3 separate regions of the Homo sapiens genome follow, and all the other regions are linked to region 3. Evidence: fine-mapped expression QTL. A gene starts in region 3. Each other region holds a variant in brackets. All regions are shown on one strand. Distances are from middle to middle.

Region 1 (2,757 bases), 770 kb after region 3:
TTTTACATTTGCTGAGGAGAGCTTTACTTCCAAGTATGTGGTCAATTTTGGAATAGGTGTGGTGTGGTGCTGAAAAGAATGTATATTTTGTGGATTTGGGGTGGAGAGTTCTGTAGATGTCTATTAGGTCTGCTTGGTGCAGAGCTGAGTTCAATTCCTGGATATCCTTGTTAACTTTCTGTCTCGTTGATCTGTCTAACTTTGGCAGTGGGGTGTCAAAGTCTGCCATTATTATTGTGTGGGAGTCTAAGTCTCTTTGTAGGTCTCTAAGGACTTGCTTTATGAATCTGGGTGCTCCTGTATTGCATGCATATATATTTAGGGTAGTTAGCTCTTCTTGTTGAATTGATCCCTTTACCATTATGTAATGGCCTTCTTTGTCTCTTTTGATCTTTGTTGGTTTAAAGTCTGTTTTATCAGAGACTAGGATTGCAACCCCTGCCTTTTTTTGTTTTCCATTTGCTTGGTAGATCTTCCTCTCTCCTTTTATTTTTGAGCCTATGTGTGTCTCTGCATGTGAGATGGGTTTTCTGAATACAGCGCACTGATGGGTCTAGAATCTTTATCCAATTTGCCAGTCTATGTCTTTTAATTGGAGCATTTAGCCCGTTTACATTTAAGGTTAACATTGTTATGTATGAATTTGATCCTGTCATTATTATGTTAGCTGGTTATTTTGCTCGTCAGTTGATGCAGTTTCCTCCTAGCCTCGATGGTCTTTACAATTTGGCATGTTTTTGCAGTGGCTGGTACCAGTTGTTCCTTTCCATGTTTAGTGCTTCCTTCAGGAGCTCTTTTAAGGCAGGCCTGGTGGTGACAAAATCTCTCAGCATTTGCTTGTGTGTAAAGTATTTTATTTCTCCTTCACTTATGAAGCTTAGTTTGGCTGGATATGAAATTCTGGGTTGAAAATTCTTTTCTCTAATAATATTGAATATTGGCCCCCACTATCTTCTGGCTTTTAGAGTTTCTGCCAAGAGATCAGCTGTTAGTCTGATGGGCTTCCCTTTGTGGGTAACCCGACCTTTCTCTCTGGCTGCTCTTAACATTTTTTCCTTCATTTCAACTTTGGTGAATCTGACAATTATGTGTCTTGGAGTTGCTCTTCTCAAGGAGTATCTTT[G/A]TGGTGTTCTCTGTATTTCCTGAATCTGAATGTTGGCCTGCCTTGCTAGATTGGGGAAGTTCTCCTGGATAATATCCTGCAGAGTGTTTTCCAACTTGGTTCCATTCTCCCCGTCACTTTCAAGTACACCAGTCAGATGTAGATTTGGTCTTTTCACATAGTCCCATGTTTCTTGGAGGCTTTGTTCGTTTCTTTCTATCCTTTTTTCTCTTAACTTCTCTTCTTGCTTCATTTCATTCATTTCATCTTCCATCACTGATACCCTTTCTTCCAGTTGATCGAAGTGGCAACTGAGGCTTGTGTATTCGTCACGTTGTTCTTGTGCCATGGTTTTCAGCTCCATCAGGTCCTTTAATGACTTCTCTGCATGGGTTATTCTAGTTAGCCATTCATCTAATCTTTTTTCAATGTTTTTAACTTCTTTGCCATGGGTTCGAACTTCCTCCTTTAGCTCAGAGTAGTTTGATCGTCTGAAGCCTTCTTCTTTCAACTCGTCAAAGTCATTCTCTGTCCAGCTTTGTTCCATTGCTGGTGAGGAGCTGCATTCCTTTGGAGGAGGAGAGGTGCTCTGATTTTTAGAATTTTCAGTTTTTCTGCTATGTTTTTTCCCCATCTTTGTGGTTTTGTCTACCTTTGGTCTTTGATGATGGTGACGTACAGATGGGGTTTTAGTGTGGATGTCCTTTCTGTTTGTTTTCCTTCTAACAGTCAGGACCCTCAGCTGCAGGTCTATTGGAGTTTTCTGGAGGTCCACTCCAGACCCTTTTTGCCTGGGTATCAGCAGCAGAGGCTGCAGAACAGCGGATATTAGTGAAAAGCAAATGTTGCTGTCTGATCGTTCCTGTGGAAGTTTTGTCTCAGAGGAGTACCCGGCCGTGTGAGGTGTCAGTCTGCCCCTACTCGGGGGTGCCTCCCAGTTAGGCTACTCAGGGGTCAGGGACCCACTTGAGGAGGCAGTCTGTCTGTTCTCAGATCTCAAGCTGTGTGCTGGGAGAACCACTACTCTCTTCAAAGCTGTCAGACAGGGACATTTAAGTCTGCAGAGGTTTCTGCTGCCTTTTGTTGGGCTATGCCCTGCCCCCAGAGGTGGAGTCTACAGAGACAGGCAGGCCTTGAGCTGCAGTGGGCTCCACCCAGTTCGAGCTTCCTGGCTGCTTTGTTTACCTACAATGGTGGGCTCCCCTCCCCCAGCCTTGCTGCTGCCTTGCAGTTTGATCTCAGACTGCTGTGCTAGCAATGAGCGAGGCTCCATGGGCGTAGGACCCTCCGAGCCAGGTGGGATACAATCTTCTAGTTTGCTGTTTGCTAGGACCATTGGAAAAGCACAGTATTAGGGTGGGAGTGACCCGATTTTCCAGGTGCTGTCTGTCACCCCTTTCCTTGGCTAGGAAAGGGAATTCCCTGACCCCTTGCGCTTCCTGGGTGAGGTGATGCCTTGCCCTGCTTCGGCTCATGCTCAGTGCACTGCACCCACTGTCTTGCACCCACTGTCCGACAATCCCCAGTGTGATGAACCCGGTACCTCAGTTGGAAATGCAGAAATCATTCATCTTCTGAGTCACTCACGCTGGGAGCTGTAGACTGGAGCTGTTCCTATTCGGCCATCTACATGTTCTTTCTTCCCTCATCATCAC
Region 2 (2,757 bases), 100 kb after region 3:
AGCCTAGGCCATTTTGTTATGTCATTTTCCTACAGCATGTGCTTTGAAGATTCTGTAAGGCCCGCTGTTGGAGGCTAGTATTTGTGGTCCCTCACATGATGATGCTGAGAGACGTGGGAGAGGACTGAGCCTAGAAGCCTCAGCCTTAGGGGGCACCAGAGCTAATGGTTTGCCCTCAGTGACCCTTCCCAAAGACTGCCTGATTATGTCTTACCAACTGTCATTCTTAGGGGTCCTCCTCTGAAATGTTCTAGGAGGCACTTCCATGTTTCTGTTGATGTAGGTGGTTTGACGCTTGAAGAATACATGAGGTGGGATATGGCACCTTCTTAGTCTACTGAAAGGTAGAACAGGAGGTATTTAGGTTTGGGTGAGGCACTAGCCCAGGGTGGTTATGTGACTTACCCAAGTGTATATCACATATAGGTGGCAGAGCTAGGATGAAGTTACATATCTTCTGACTCCCACCCCAGTGCTCATCTCATTTTGCCCTCAGCCCTTTAAATGAGGACCTGGTCAACCTCAGTGAATCTATTTAGGGTGTGGAGGGAGAAAGACCACACGGTTTCCTCCCAGCTGTCCCTTCTGTTCCTCCGTGCTGCCCCGCCAGGGCTCCAAGCACAGGTACTCTCCCAAGGCTATGCTGTGTGATGGGAGAGCATGCACTGTGGACTCAGACCTGTAACAATGACACTGAGACCTGGGCAGACCTGTGACAATAATGCTGAGTCCTGGGCTGGCGCCTGGCCCTGCTGAAGGTGCTTTTTCTCATCTGTATCATGGGGCTTATATCTGTTAATTCAAAAGGCTGTGGTGAGGATTAAAAGTTTCTAGTACATTGCAGGTGCCCAGTAAATATTAGCTTCCTTCTTTCTCCTGGGCTGGGCTGGGCTCTGCTTACTTCCGTGTGTGGTGTGGAAGGGGTGGTGCCAAGGGGGCCACCAGCAGAGACACAATGTGAACAAGTTGGCGCTGGCACTCCTTGTCTCTTAGTCTCTGTCCCTCTACAGTACTGCTCTGCTCTTGGAGATCCTGACACGAACCAAGCTTAAGTAGAAATGAAAGTTGATTATTTTTATGCAGATTACCATTGCAATAAAAACATTTTTATACTTAAAGGTGAACAGTGACCTGTTGACAACTGAGGTTGACCAGTTTCTCATTTATAAGGGTGTGCATATTATTTTGTTTTATTTATTTATTTATTTATTTATTTATTTATTTATTTTTTGAGATGGAGTCTC[G/A]CTCTGTCACTCAGGCTGGAGTCCAGTGGTGCGACCTCAGTGCACTGCAACCTCTGCCTCCTGGGTTCAAGCAATTCTCCTGCCTCAGCCTCCTGAGTAGCTGGGACTACAGGCGCACACCACCACGCCTGGCTAATTTTTGTATTTTTAGTAGAGATGGGGCTTCACCATCTTGGCCAGGATGGTCTTGATTTCCTGACCTCGTGATCCACCTGCCTCGGCCTCCCAAAGTGCTGGGATTTCAGGCCTGAGCCACCACGCCTGGCCGCATGTTATTTTTTTTTTAATTTTTGAGATGGGGTCTTGTTCTGTTGCGCAGACTAGAGTGCAGTGGTGAAATCACAACTCACTGCAGCTTCAACCTTCCAGGCTCAAGCCATCCACCTGCCTCAGCCTCCTGAGTAGCTGGTACTACAGGCACATACCACCACACTCAGCTAATTTTTTTTTTTGTATGTTTTGTAGAGACGGAGATTTGCCATGTTGCTCAGGCTGGTCTCGGACTCCTGGGCTCAAGTGATCAAGCTGCCTTGGCCTCCCAAAGTGCTGGGATTATAGGCGTGAGCCACTGTAACTGGCCTTATGTTATTTCATGTATAAGAAAATTCAAGTATAAAATACTTTCTGAAAAGTGCTTTAAAATCTGTTATCCATGGACAAGATCTTTAGAACCGGCATCAGAGTGAGCGTGCTTATGCATGTTCTAAGAGATGCAGTTGAATGTGTAGATATAAGCACACCTTATTATTCTGGAGGTTTTGAAAGACTTTAAAAAAAATCACAGTAGAGCTCATTAATTCCTTAGATAAGTTGCCTTAATAAAGGGTAAATATAGTTTGGGAAATGTCTCTGATACAAGTGATCCACGTCTTCTGTAGTATCATCCTTGTTCTTCATCCTTCCCAGGTGGGGCCAGGGGCCCTTGGTTTTTCACTGTACCTTAAAAATCACTGCATCCCAGCTTGTCATCTGTTGGGAGGAAGCCTGCATCTTCAGGCTTTGAAATGAGCACAGCGTAAGGACAGAGTTCACTCCATTTCTCTCCTCTTGTGGTTTATATCACTTGTAGTGCTTGTCCATTTGTCCCAGGAGAAGAGATGGTGGCTCTCCGATGGTAAATTCTTTGAATCCTTTATGCTAAGTTGTCTAATATTTAAGTGCTCAGGAACATAAACACAAAATCGTTACTGGTAACTGACGTGCTAAGTTTATAAAGTAGAAGAGAAAATATATCTACAAAATAGTCTTCTAGTTGTAGAAGTGCCAGTTTTTGGAGGTTTCATTCTGGTATAATTTCCCTAATATGATTTGTGCAGGAAAATAGAACCATTAAAGAAACATTGGTGTAAAGGGTTCAGTAGAAACAGGATCTCTTTAAGTAGAAAAGCAAAGCCAAATGATGGTCTACATAAAGGACAAGGAGATTCAGATCCTGTATGGCTGATTTTAGAATTTTCTTTCTCCATGGAAAGCATTAGTTTGTGACATTAAATTAACATGATTCAAATGTATG
Region 3 (2,757 bases):
TGCCATTTGCTCAGTTAATAGCTGATGAATGAACAGATGAACGAATGAATGATGACTGAACACAGTGACACACAGATACGTCTCTGTCCACTTGAGATAATCCTGACCTCCTCAGATAAACCAGTGTATGCAAGGTTCTGGGCATCTTCTGGTGGGCTCAGGGAAACTGAGAATTGGATTGTCCTCTCTAGTATATTATGAAGTTGATCATTTAAGATGATGGGTCTCTGAGCCAGAGCCTGAGAATTACTTAATTTAAAAACAGATGAGAAGGTGGCACCTGGGTCTTTTTAATCTACTTCCACTGCACATGAGGAGATGAAATAGAACTGGTACTACTTACAAGGGTTTATAAAAGTTGATTTTAGTAGGTCTGTCCTCTCAGCTAGGCAGAGAACACTTGTATTTTCAGGTATTACCCGAATTTAAGCAACAGATGTGTTCCTAAAATTAACTAACTTATTTGTTTTATGATCATTTGTTCAGCACCCAATAACATCTAACTTTCAAGAGCTTATCCTATATACATGTCAGGCACCGTGCTAGGTGCTTTAAAAGCATCTGTCTTTTAATTCCCCCAGAAATCACAAGATGATATTATTCCAATGACAGAGATGAGGAAACTGAGTCTTAAGGAAATTAAGACTTCTTAATTTCCTCCGCTCTTAATTTCCTCCGCCTGTTGGTCATACATCTAATAAGTGGCTGAGGTGGGATTCACACTCATGCATTGCTTCTTCCTAGGGTAGAATCCTTATTCAGTATGCTGCCCACTATGTGCTAGATGCTACAGACACAAAGATATCAAGCAGATATCACCACCCAAGTGCAGTGCTAGAGACAGGCACAGCAGATTAGGGGAACATCAAGGAGGGCCACCAACTCTTTATAGGTGTTTAGTGAGCTGGGAAAGTCTGAGGAAGGAGGGTTGAGCTAGGTCTTAGAGGAAAAGGAAGTTCTGGAAAAATAGAGTGGACACTCAGTTGTTCTGCCAGCCCGGCACCATGTCTGGGAATACCATCCCTCTTCTTTTGGGAACCTTCCCACCAAGGGATTCCTCCATAATCTTACAAAATCCCTGATTCTGGTTGATTGGTTTAGCACTAGATGCCAACCTAAACCAAGGCCAATCAAACCCAAACTCTGAACAGACATCCATCCTTATCTAGTGGTAGAAGTTGAAGGATGAAACCCAGGGGCTATTGGGAGCTGTTTCCCAAGTGATTTTCTTTTGGGATCAGGATGATCCAGACCCAGTTATCTAGAGATTTTAACCGGAAATATTGGATATGACCTCCATCCGGTTCCGGCTTGGGCAGCCAGACCGGACTTGCAGGCTCTTGGAGGTCGCATCCTGTCCTTCCCCCGGCAGGTAGAGTGACTACAAGTCCCGGGATGCGCAGCGCTCGGAGTCGGGCGGGGGCCGGGCGGACCTCTACGGTGACGTCACCGTCCCGGGGCGGGCCAGGGGAGGGCGGGGCGGAGGGGCGGGTCTCAAGGCGGCAGAGCGCGCTGGTGCTGATGCAGGATGGCTGAGCGCGCAGGAGCCCGGGAGGTCTGAGCCGGGCGAGGCTCGCTCCCTGCGCATCGCCTCCTCCGCCCGCCGCGTGGTCGCGGGCAGGTGGGCCGGGGGGCGCTGGGCAGGGGCGGGGCAGGGCCAGGGCAGGCCGGTCTGCAGCCGGAGGGGCCGGAGCGGAGAAGCTGCCCACCTTCCCGGGCTCGGAGCGGCCGGGGCTGCTCAGCCGGCCGGGCTCGCGATGACCTGCTGAGAAGCGTCGTCGGAGGCTGCAGGAGGCGGCCTAGCTGTGGGCGGTGCAGCTCGCGGCCTCCTCCCTCGTCGTTCCCGGCCCCGGCCCCCCACCCATCCCCGTGCCCCCTCCCTACCGCCGGCCGAGATGGCGGATCCAGCCGAATGCAGCATCAAAGTGATGTGCCGGTTCCGGCCCCTCAACGAAGCGGAGATCCTCCGCGGGGACAAATTCATCCCCAAATTTAAAGGCGATGAGACCGTGGTGATCGGGGTAAGTGGCTGGGGCGTCTGCCTTCCCTGCTGCTCCGCGCCGCAGCTGGGCGCCCCGACGCCCCAGACGCAGCGGAGGTGTTTAGGCCGCCCCCTCGGACATTCCCGCGGGGCTGGCCTCTCGGGTGGACCTGACCAGAGACCCCTCGCCCCGCGCACTATGGTTCCCTCCCGGGCGGGTGGAGAGGCGGCCGGGAGCGGCGGGCCGGGCGGGGGTGGCGGGGGTGGGGATGGGGGGCGAAGACGGGCTCGGCGCCGCCATTGTTCGCCGGGTGGGGGCCCGGGTGGGCCCATTGTTCCCCACGCTCGCCTCGCCGCGTGGGTAGTGTGTTCGGGTGACCCTCAAGCCGGGTGCCCAGGCCCCCTTTAAAGTGTGAGCTCTGCAACCCGCAAATGCTTCTGGGCATCAATCAATTCGATTTACCAAACGCCTTGCCTCTTCTTCTCACGACCCTAGCAAAAAAGAAAGAAAAAGGGGTACAGGAAAATTTCTAGTCGCGTCTCGGAGCTCCCGCGGCAGTGTAGACGCGGCTCCCCGCGGTGTTACACCTGGCTCCGCGCGCGGAAGGCGGAGGGTTGGGGGAGTACTGGTGGCCTCGGTGTCCCCTGGAGGCCTGGTGTGTCTCCCGCTTCCTCTCACGCCTGGCTGCCCTGGATGTGGAGTCCCGGCTTGATCCCTCCCCTCTGGGATGACCTCCCTCCCATGTCTGCAGACCCTCTGATGCGCCTCACGCTGG

What was found.
Region 1: its variant is fine-mapped to the expression of KIF5C in spleen (GTEx, PIP 0.99).
Region 2: its variant is fine-mapped to the expression of KIF5C in whole blood (TOPMed, PIP above 0.99).

What each region holds. Positions count from the first base shown.
Region 1 is chr2:149,641,262-149,644,018 of GRCh38, forward strand. All of the region lies in intron 1 of MMADHC-DT (MMADHC divergent transcript), which reads left to right. Among named protein-coding and RNA genes, the nearest start is that of MMADHC, 55 kb to the left of the region's middle. The variant G/A (reference allele first, on the strand shown) is at 1,124.
Region 2 is chr2:148,975,057-148,977,813 of GRCh38, forward strand. All of the region lies in intron 12 of KIF5C (kinesin family member 5C), which reads left to right. Among named protein-coding and RNA genes, the nearest start is that of LYPD6B, 62 kb to the right of the region's middle. The variant G/A (reference allele first, on the strand shown) is at 1,245.
Region 3 is chr2:148,873,723-148,876,479 of GRCh38, forward strand. KIF5C (kinesin family member 5C) reads left to right here and starts at 1,505. Exons shown (of 26, transcript NM_004522.3): 1 at 1,505-2,021. The coding sequence starts at 1,896. It overlaps KIF5C-AS1 (KIF5C antisense RNA 1), which reads right to left. Exons shown (of 4, transcript XR_001739733.2): 4 at 1-2,473. RefSeq lists a silencer at 1,329-1,798 and enhancers at 2,171-2,749, 2,750-2,757.